Linked DNA regions of Homo sapiens. The protein of the gene in region 1 purifies or fractionates together with the protein of each later gene. This does not show direct contact. Each region holds a gene or a part of one and is shown on either strand. Other genes may lie near its edges. The genes, in order: NAXD, CLN6 and NFXL1.

The links.
Region 2: the proteins of NAXD (region 1) and CLN6 purify together in Homo sapiens (affinity purification with mass spectrometry; one large-scale study listed by BioGRID and IntAct). This does not show direct contact.
Region 3: the proteins of NAXD (region 1) and NFXL1 purify together in Homo sapiens (affinity purification with mass spectrometry; one large-scale study listed by BioGRID and IntAct). This does not show direct contact.

The regions. Positions count from the first base shown.
Region 1 is NC_000013.11:110,629,031-110,632,683, reverse strand, and holds part of NAXD (ATP-dependent (S)-NAD(P)H-hydrate dehydratase), read right to left. Parts: intron 1-3,653. UniProt on the Homo sapiens protein: Catalyzes the dehydration of the S-form of NAD(P)HX at the expense of ATP, which is converted to ADP.
Region 2 is NC_000015.10:68,216,114-68,219,766, forward strand, and holds part of CLN6 (ceroid-lipofuscinosis neuronal protein 6), read right to left. Parts: intron 2,538-3,653; coding exon 2,423-2,537; intron 1-2,422.
Region 3 is NC_000004.12:47,883,496-47,887,148, reverse strand, and holds part of NFXL1 (NF-X1-type zinc finger protein NFXL1), read left to right. Parts: intron 1-1,149; coding exon 1,150-1,270; intron 1,271-1,491; coding exon 1,492-1,651; intron 1,652-2,711; coding exon 2,712-2,803; intron 2,804-3,653.

The DNA.
Region 1 (3,653 bases):
CACTCTGTGTCTAACTCAGGGTTTGTGAGTGCACCTATCGACACTCTGTATCTAGATGCTCTGGTGGGGCCTTGGAGAACCTGTGTGTCGAAACTCTGTATCTAACTAATCTGATGGGGACGTGGAGAACCTTTGTGTCTAGCTCAGGGATTGTAAACACACCAATCAGTGCCCTGACAAAACAGGCCACTCGGCTCTACCAATCAGCAGGATGTGGGCGGGGCCGGATAAGAGAATAAAAGCAGGCTGCCCGAGCCAGCATTGGTAACCCGCTCGGGTCCCCTTCCACGCTGTGGAAACTTTGTTCTTTCGCTCTTTGCAATAAATCTTGCTACTGCTCACTCTTTGGGTCCACACTGCTTTTATGAGCTGTAACAGTCACCGCGAAGATCTGCAGCTTCACTCCTGAAGCCAGCGAGACCACGAGCCCACCGGGAGGAACGAACAACTCCAGACGCGCTGCCTTAAGAGCTGTAACACTCACCGCGAAGGTCTGTAGCCTCACTCCTGAGACAGAGACCACGAACCCACCAGAAGGAAGAAACTCCGAACACATCTGAACATCAGAAGGAACAGACTCCAGACGCGCCACCTTAAGAGCTGTAACACTCACCGCGAGGGTCCACGGCTTCATTCTTGAAGTCAGTGAGACCAAGAACCCACCAATTCTGGACATAAAAATACATGCTAAGAATAATTTAAAGTATTGAAAACTAAAGCCGTGTATATTAAATGAAATTTGAAAGCTGACAAAGCATTAGCTGCTCGCCTAACAAAGTGCTCATTTCAGCCTGTTTATGACGCACATTCCAGCCATAGGAAAGTGTGTATTTGGCTCTGACACTGGTCCGAGCATTAGCAGTGTGTCCTGAAGCCCCTTCCAGGGAGGCAGGTACCTGAGACTTCATGGAAGTTTATTATTCCCTTTATTAACAATAAAAATTCTTTGTCTGCTTGCCCTGAGTTTGGCTTTACTGTTAAAACTGGCAGGCTTTTGCTAATTCAGATTTTAGATCAGTTTCTGATTTCATGTTGCAGTATTTGGCAACAATCTGACATTTTCATCTGTTTCTGTGTTTTCTTTTAATGTATTTGCAAATAGTACTCAAAAGTGAATATTCAAACCCTGGAAAATGCAATGTTACATGGGTCTCCTAGAAAGGTTTGCAGCATCAGAGCACCCAGCGCAGAAGGGTGTCCCCACCCATGGGAAAGCAAACCTTGGTACACTAGGGAGAAATCTGGGGGCATCTCTCAAAAATTTAAACGTCCTTACTCTGATTCAGCAATGGAACTTCACCCAAAAGAGTGCACAAAACACATAGATTCAGGACACCACTGATGTTAACATGAAGAAAAAGCTGAAAACAGTGTAAATGAACTAAATACACTGTAGTAGATCCATAAATTCTGATGTGGCTGTTAAAAATAATGAGTATCCACATATCCTTCCATGAAAAAGTCTCCAGGACACACTGTTAACGAGTGTGCAAAGAGCACAGTGTGAGGACAGGTGCATTGGTCAAGAGCCTGCGCTCCAGATTCAGACAACGTGGGTTCAAAGCCAGCCCAGGAACCAGAAGACTTAATGTTGTTAGACATTCCCCCAACTGATCTTCAGTTTCAACATCATCCCTACCAAAGTTGCGGCTGCCTATTCCACAAATCAGCAAGCTGATCCAAAACTGGAATGCATGGGACCCAGGAGAGCCAAAACAACCTTAAAAAGAGCGAATTTGGAGGACTCGGGCTTTCGACGTCAAGGCTTCCTACACAGCCACAGCAGTCAAGACCGGGCAGTTGCAGGACAGCTGTACAGATCAACAAAACAGAAACAACAGTCCAGAAATAAGCCTTCACATTTAGGGTCAACGGATTGTCAGGGAGGATGACAAGTTGGGAGGAAAAAGGAGTCTCTCCAGCACATGGTGCTGCAACAGCTGGACACCCACAAGCAAAAGACTGACGCTGGAGCCTCCTCCTACCACACCAGCATCAGCTCGACATGCACCGCAGAGCTAAAGTAACAACCAAAACAATAAGGCTCTTAACATGTAGGAGTAAACCTTGGGTTAGGCAGAAGCTTCTGAGATAAGACACCAACAGCACAAGGGACAAAAGAAAAAACAGCTAAATTGGACTTCAAAATTAAAAACTGTGCTGTAAACAAAACCATCGAAGTGAAAAGACAACCTACAGAATGAGAGGATATCGGCAAATCGTCTCTCTGATAAGGAACCTGTGTCTAGAACGTATATGAAGAACTCCTAAAAGTCAATAAAAAAAAGGCAAAAAACAGTTTTCAAAGTGGGGAAAGGGTATGAATAGACACTTCTCCAAAGAAGATACCCAAAGAGGCCAGGCATGGTAGCTCACGCCTGTAACCCCAGCACTTTGGGAGGCTGAGGCGGGCGGATACCTAAGGTCAGGAGTTCGAGACCAGCCTGGCCAACATGGTGAAACCCCATCTCTACTAAAAATACAAAAATTAGCTGGGTGTGATGGTGGGCGCCTGTAGTCCAAGCTACTTGGAGGCCAAGGCAAAGGAATCACTTAAACCCAGGAGGTGGAGATTGCAGTGAGCCAAGATCACGCCATTATACTCCAGCCTGGGTGACAGAGTGAGAATATGTCTCAAAAACAAAACAAAACAAAAACAAAAAAAAAGATACCCAAACAGCCAATGAGCACATGCAAAGATGCTCAACAGCATCAGCTGCCAGGAAAACGCAAACCAAACCACAGTGAGGTCGCTCCACGCCCACTAGAGTGGCTGCTAAGTAGACAACAACAGTAACAAGTGCTGGGAACGATGTGGAGAATCAGAGCCCTCGCACACTGCTAGAGGGAATGGAAAATAGTGCAGCCGCTATGGGAAACAGTGGCAGGGCCTCAAAATGTGAAACACTTAACACCCAGGAGAGTGAAAACACATCCACACAAAAAGTGGAAACCAATTTTCCATAAATTAATCAACAGATAAACCAAAGGTGGTGTATGCATACAGTGAAATATTAGATATAAAAAGGAATGGAATACTGATACATGCTACAACACAGGTAACTCTAAATATAAAATTATGCAGAGTGACATAACTAATCACTAAATAGCACACGTTGCATAATTCCATTCATATGAAATGTCCTGAACAGGCGAATCCAGAGAGACAGAAAGCATACTAGCTGAGTGGCTGCCAGGAACTGGGGAGACTGGGGAACAGGGAGCAGATGCTAACGGGGATGGGCTGCTTCTGGAGGCAATAAACATATTCTAAGGTTGATCATGGTGATGGTTGCACAACTATGAATATACTTGAAGCCACCGCATAGTTCACTTTAAATGGGTGAGGGGTATGGTAGGTAAATCATCTAAATAAAGTCGTTTTTAAAAAACCATCTCTGCAGTTTCTTTGCTACCAGATCCCACGGGCGTCTTGAATCCTTGCCAGGACTCAATCTGTCATCAGAAGAATGGGGCTATGAATAGGAATCTACCTAATCGGGTTGTTTTCAGGCCTACACCAGATGATGACCTCATTCAGGAACGTCGACGAAGTAGGAAGCCTCTGCTCCGCACCAGACACGAGCTGGAAGCTGACGAGGAGGCGGCAGCCCACGCTAGATGACCTGAGGGCTCTCAAGACCACGGCAACA
Region 2 (3,653 bases), on another chromosome or scaffold:
AGCAGGATGGGGGAAGTGATTTGCCCAATAGGAGACCCTGTTATGCCAGTAGAAGCTGGGTCCTAGTGAGTGAAGGGAGCCACGAGCCCACTCCTGGCCTCATCTCTCTCTCTAGCACCAGTTTGATGGGCAGCTTCTTTGGCCCCCAGTATGTGGTTCCTTCATGCTAGAAGAAGGTTCAGAGCAGCCAGTCCAGCCAGTCTTCTTGGAGAGAGAAATGAAGCCCAGGACAGTGACTTGCCCTAGGTCACCCACAAACCCAACCAGATGCCCCAACTCTTGGCTCAATTCCTCTTATTTTTCCACATTTAAAAGGCAACCTTCAAAAAGACTGCAGGAAGGAGAACCAGCACCCACCATCACTCCCTGACAGCATTGCCAGGACAGCTTTTCTTTACACCTATCAAGTCTTTGATCCCAGGTAGACAAGCTCGTTATTGACTTGCAATTAGTCAGTCTGCATGTCATTTAGGAACCTTTTTTCTCCTTAAATATTCCAGGTTGCTCTATAGTATCCATAATTTCTGCTTAATTGCCAGGAAACATTCTCTATAATGGACATAGCAAAACTGATTTACCCAGTCCCTAATGCTGGACACGCAAGTCACTTCTAAGGTTTGGCTATCATAAACACCACTGCAATGAACATCTTTGAGTTAGAGGAAACTGCTGTCTTCTTGCTGATTATATCCCTACGGGCAGATTCTCGGAAGGGTATTACTGGGTCAGAGGGATGAATATATTAGGATTCTGGATATTTATGTGACAGAGAATTCAACCTTGTCAGAAAGGGGCTCCAGGGCCAGAATGCCTGGGCAGATGCTGGCCTCTATGCTTGACCTCGAGCCAGTTACTTATTCTCTCTCTCCTCAAGTTTCCTCATCTATAACATTGAGATCAGCAATAGTGTTGATATGAGAATTAAATAAACTGAAACACATAAAGAGCTTAGAACAGAGTAAACATTCGATGTTAGCCACTATTCTAACTTTGCTATAATTATTATTCATTCAGTAAAAATGCATTAAACACTTATTGTGTTAGGCACTATTCTAAGTACTAATCTTGCCAAGTTGTTACTTATGAATTATTACTGCTTTCCAAAAAGGCTTTGCTTTTTGTTTGTTTTGTTTTTTGAGACAGGGTCTCACTGTGTTGCCCAGGCTGGAGTGCAGCGGTGTGATCACGGCTCACTGCAGCCTCAACTTCCCAGGCTCAGGAGATCTTCCCAGCTCAGTCCTGAGTAGCTGGGACTACAGGTGCACATCACCACACCCAGCTAATTTACAAATCTTTTATAGAGACAGGGTCTCATTATATTGCCCTGACTGATCTCAAACTCCTGGGCTCAAGTGATGTTCCTGTTTCAGCTTCCCAAAGTGCTAGGATTATAGGCATGAGCCACCATGCCCGGCCCCAAAAGGGCTTTGCTAATTTGCATGATCACTAGTATGTACAAAGTGCCAGTTTCAGCACTGGATATTGTTATTTTTACACTTGAATTTGCTGAGTGACCTTCGAAAAGTCACTTCCCGTTTATCTTCCAGTAAACTGAGAGTATAGGCCTGGATGCCTTCATATCTTTTGGCTCTATGACTGTGGCCCGTCAGGCAACTGTCAGCAAGTTGGGTGGGAGGGGTCTGGGGGCCATGAATAGTCACACTGTGCCCCCACTACCAAATAATGACTTGATACCTGGTGATATCTCACTTAATTTTCTTCACGTTCGTCTATTTATTATCTATCATCTGTCAATTATCTACCTACCTACCTACCTACCTACCTACCTACCTACCTACCTACCTATCTATCTTCCATCCTCCCACTACAAGCAAGGGGCACTGGTGCCCTCCCAGCATTAATCTTGTCTGTGGAGGCCACCACTGGATACTAAAGCATGAAGTAGCCTTGGAAGGCAGGGGATGGTTTCACTGGATGGCATTAAAAATTACCCATGGCTCACAGTCATATATAATATGCAAAATCAGCCTACGCCCTTCAACTCCAGAAAAAATAATACTATCCCAAGGTAATGGGGAAGGACAGGGGAGACGGAGGTGGGGGTGCGGTGCTCCACTTCCTTTCCTATACCCCTTTGTCTGTCTTGGTGATTTGGTTCAACCTGGTTCACCTGCTTCCAGACACAGGCCAGAGGGGGTTACAGTATTACAGTATGACTGTTCAGGACCACCAGTTCCCCCATGAGAGTTGGGGCAAAGTATGACTCTTCAGGCCCCCCACTTGCTGGCAGTTGCCTGACGGGCCAAGTCATAGAGCTAAGGATATGAAGGCATCCAGGCCTATTCTCTCAGTTTACTAGGAGATAAAGGAGAAGTGACTTGTCTAAGGTCACTCGGCAAATTCAAGCCACACTAAGTGTCCTCAGTGCTGGTCAGAGCCCTGTGCACCATTTCACACTCACCATGGCAATGGGACGCCCAAAGTCCAGAACCCAGTTCTGCAGTGTGAAGTAGAACCAGAGGTCGAGGTGGAAGGGAGCCGTGCGGGCAGCCTCATCAGCGCTCACAGAGCCATGCCTGGGAAGGAACCAGACGAGAGAAGTCAGCTCTTCTCTCCTCCTCCACCAAAATCTTCCCCTGAGATTAGCCACAAAGAGGTCTGGGGACTTGAGGACAGGAGGAGACACACATAATTGAGTTCTATGGATAGGGTTTTGCTGGATATACTGGGGTCTGGCCCTGTGGTCAAGGAGAAGGTGGACTTCAGCTGCCCCGACCTTAGCTTCTCTCTGATTCAGGAAGGAAACAGCTGAACAGGTGTAATTGCTGGGGTTTCTCCGCTACTGAAAGATGGAGGAAATCAAGAAAGGCAAAGGACGCAATCGTGGCTGAAAAGCATGAAACTTGATGATGGATCATGGCAGCTGACCTTAGTTGAGCACTTACTATATCCCAGGCACTACTGTTAGCTGTTTACATGTATTATCTCATTTAATCCTCACAGAAACCTTTCAAGGCTGAAATATTACCTCCATTTTAGAAACGAAAAAACTGAGGCCCAAGAGGCTCAATAACTTGCTCAAGGTCACACAGCTAAGGATTTGAACCCAAATGATTGGGCTCCTGAGCTTATACTTTTAACCTCCATCCCATAGTTGGGTCCATCAGGATTGGTCTATGGGATGGGCATGTGACCAGAGCTTGGCCAATCAGAGCCCTCCAATGAAATGTGCTTTAGAGAGACTGAAATGGATAGGGCCTCCTGCTCGCTTGATTCCAGCACTGTGAGGAGGTCAGGTTGGGCTGCTGGTAATCCTCTTCTCAGCAGTCCACAGTAGAACCTGAGAAGGAGCCAGCAGAAGCAAGGTGATGTGAGAGACACAGCAGGAAGTGGAGTACTGCCTCACGATACATCTTTGGAGGCCTGTCCCTCTCACTAAACAGTTGGTCATCTGCTGTTCACAGATGCACTGAAGTTCCAGGACCAGTGCTGCCTCCTCTGGGAAGGCTTCCCTGATGAAGCTTTTCCCAAAGCCCCACCAGCCCACTGCAGGGAGCATTTCAACGCCAACCCAGTCTGGCATAATGGGGCTGGAGCTGTACTCTCCCATCTAGACCCTCGAGAACAGGGGTGACCTTTAAGGTTCTCCCAACTCACCCACCTCCCTATCAGAGTCCAAATCCTCTTTACAG
Region 3 (3,653 bases), on another chromosome or scaffold:
CTTGGAGCGAACTTTATAGCCTGCTTTAAAGATTTCTTTGATTTTGTTTTTTTATATTTTTGCCAACCCATAACAAAAGAGCGTAAAAAGCTGAAACCAAAATAACATTTTTTTTTATGTTTAGAAGAGAAATATTTGGGATTATATCCTAAAATGGTGGCTTAGTACTTAGTCTTTCACAAAGCACAATTAATGGAAAATTGACTGTGCTTGCTACTAACCAATATCAGGTCATGAGAAAGAAGTTATTGGGAATTCATCTAAAAATTGTGTACTTGGATAGATGTATGAAAGTAGGCCAACGATATTATTGTTAATGTTAAATTTTCCAAAGACTTAAATCCATTTTTGCTTGTTTTAGTTTTGAATGAGTAATGTGTTAAATTTGTTATTTAGAACAGAAGTTTTAGCACATTTTAGAGAAATGTCTAAAACTTTATGAGGTACCAGTGTACAGAGAAAAAAGTGTTATAAATCAGAGGCTGGGTGCAGTGGCTCACGCCTGTACACCCAGCATTTGGGAAGCTGAGGTGGGAAGATTGCTTGAGTCCAGGAGTTTGAGACCAGCCTGGATGACATAGTGAGACCCCTCCATCTCTATAAATAATCAAAAATTAGCTGGGCATGGTGGTGTGTGTCTGTAGTCCCAGCTACTTGGAAGGCTGACGTGGGAGGATTGCTTGAGCCCAGAAAGTTGAGGCTGCACTGAGCTGTGATCATGCAACAGCACTCAGCTTGAGCAACAGGTTGAGACCCTGTTACAAAAAAAAAAAGAGAAAAGTATTACAAATAAAAAGTATACAGCTTGTTGAATTTTTACAAACTGAACATAGCCAGGTAACCAAAACTTACATCATTAAACAGAACATGACCAAAATTTTCAACACCTTCCTTGCATCCTTCATAGCTATCACTCTGATTTTGAACAGTACATTTTTTCTTGTTTACTTTATATAAATGGAATCATGCACTATGTACTCCTTGTGTCTGGCTCAATGTTTTGTGGTAAGATTCATTCATGTTGTTGTAGTTTCTTCATTCTTGTTGTAGAGTATCCCATTGTGTGAATATACTAAATTTATGTATTTTACCATTAATAGGCATTTGGGTAGTTAAGGAAACTTTTTAATTGTCAGACTTTTTTTTCAGGCAGTTGCTATCCCTGCCCAGAAACCGTAGATGTGAAGTGTAATTGTGGCAATACAAAGGTGACAGTGCCCTGTGGCCGAGAACGTACCACAAGACCACCCAAGTGCAAGGAGCAATGCAGGTGAGTTTGAAGCTTTGCACAAGCTTCCATCTGATGTTGTACAAATTTAAATTCATATTGGCTTTTAATAATTTAATTTTGCTTTAGTGTTTTAAAATATTAATATTCACAGTATACTCATTCTATATGGAATCAGAAGATATGTAAATAGATAATTGTCCTTTAGATGTAATTATTCAATGACTAAAAGTAATTTTTGAAAATTGTACTTTATGATTTAGTCGACCACCAACTTGTCATCATACAAGTCAAGAAAAACATCGCTGTCACTTTGGTTCTTGTCCACCATGTCATCAACCTTGCCAAAAAGTTTTGGAGAAATGTGGTCACTTGTGTCCTGCTCCGTGTCATGATCAAGCATTAATAAAGCAGACTGGCAGGGTAAGGGAATAATACTATTAGAGAAATAGTGCATTGCTGTGGGTTGTACTTTCTTGCTTTTACTTAGTTTTTCAATGAGCAATGATTAAGCACTTATTGGGAAGCACTGTGCTTGGAGCAGGGTACAAGGTAATCAAGACTTGATTTTGTTTTAAGCAACTCACAGTGTAGGAAAGGAGTGAAACCATTGTTTGCAAATACAGTGTGATAGTTACATTATGATCATGATACAGGTGAATTTGGCAGTCCTCCTTCATATATTGTGGTTTAGGGTTATAGATATCTCCTATAATCTTATTTTAAAGATTTATTCACTTTTTAATATTTTATTTAATATTTATTTATTTTTAGTTATTTAATTTTTTTTTTTTTTGAGACGGAGTCTCACTCTGTTGCCCAGGCTGGAGTGCAGTGGTGTGATCTGGGTCACTGCAACCTCCACCTCCCGGGTTCAGTGACTCTCGTGCCTTAGCCTCCTGAGTAGCTGGGATTATAGGTGCCTGCTACCATGCCCAGCTAATTTTTGTAGTTTTAGTAGAGATGGGGTTTCAGCTTGTTGATCAGGCTGGTCTCGAACTCCTGACCTCAAGTGATCTGCCCGCCTCCGCCTCCCAAAGTGCTGGGATTACAGGTGTGAGGCACCACGTCCAGCCCAGCCTCATGAACATTTATTGAGCCCTTACTAAATATCAAGCTTTTTTTTAGGTGCTGAGGAACAACAGTGAGTAAAATGATGGAGATTATATTCAATTGCTAGATGTTGGAGTTTCCAATTGTTTTTCTCATTTCCTTATTGGAAGTAAAGGAGGCTACACTGCCTTTGTTCTACCATTTATAAACTGGATTCTGTCTCAGTTATTAATATCAAATGTCTGTGGAGAGGAACAATTTCATTTAATACAGATAAAATGAAATATTTCAGTAAGCACAATTTATTGATTATTTGAAAAAATTTCAACCTGCTTGAGCAGAGGATACATGGAACTATTTTCTTAGATTCTTAAAATGGCCATATGATTTAATCCCTCTGACTTAAAATTCTTATGTATTTTATTTGTAGCACCAGCCTACAGGCCCTTGGGAACAGCCTTCTGAGCCAGCATTTATTCAGACTGCATTACCGTGTCCTCCATGTCAAGTTCCTATTCCTATGTAAGTATTAGAATTTCAATTAAAAAAAAAAAACAAAAAACTTTTGACATAGCTTAAAGGGTATCTGAAGTCAATCTCCCTTTTTTCTTAGTTCAGTTCATTATTATTTCAGGCCTAGCCTATCAACTAGTGTGTCTGTCTTAACCTTCATTCTTTTCAAACATGTTTGTCATACTTGCATATAAACCTACTATAGATATCTTTTTTTGAGTCTTTACCCCCAGTTGGAGTTTGATGCCCTTCTTAGCTTTCCATAGCGAGTGCATGCAATTACAAAAACAAATCCAAGGAACATCATTTGTTACTTTTCCCGATGATTCCCATACTGGATTGTAAGCTCCCTGAAGACAGAAGAAAGCCAGGTTTTAGATAAGGCAAACTTGGGGAATATTTAAAGGAAGCCTTGGAAATGAGAGGAAGTAGTTTCCTGGATGGGCCAGTGAATGACTGGGACTGAGCTCTAAGGAGCTGAACCTACAGTAATACGGAATCCTGGAATTTTTTATACTTCCAGCAGAGGTTATGGAGTATAGGGGAAAAAGCACAGAATGCTGAGAAGCAACATAAAGTTAGAAAAGGGGCTGTTGTCTACAACTGAGGTGCCAAATTAAACATTGGTATTTCTGGTGTATTGGTCTTTTAAAGAGAGGATTGTTTTTGTTTTTTAATTCTAAAAGCTTTCATTTCCACAACATTCCTCCCAGTTGAAATAGCATGTATATTTTTGTGTATTGGTCACACAGTCAAGTTGGGAGGCAAAGTGTTGTTAGGAGATATATGCACAAATAGGGTAATTTTAGTCTGTAGATTTAATGGAGGTGGGCTGTGTAGTTAGCAGAGAGGTTTTTCA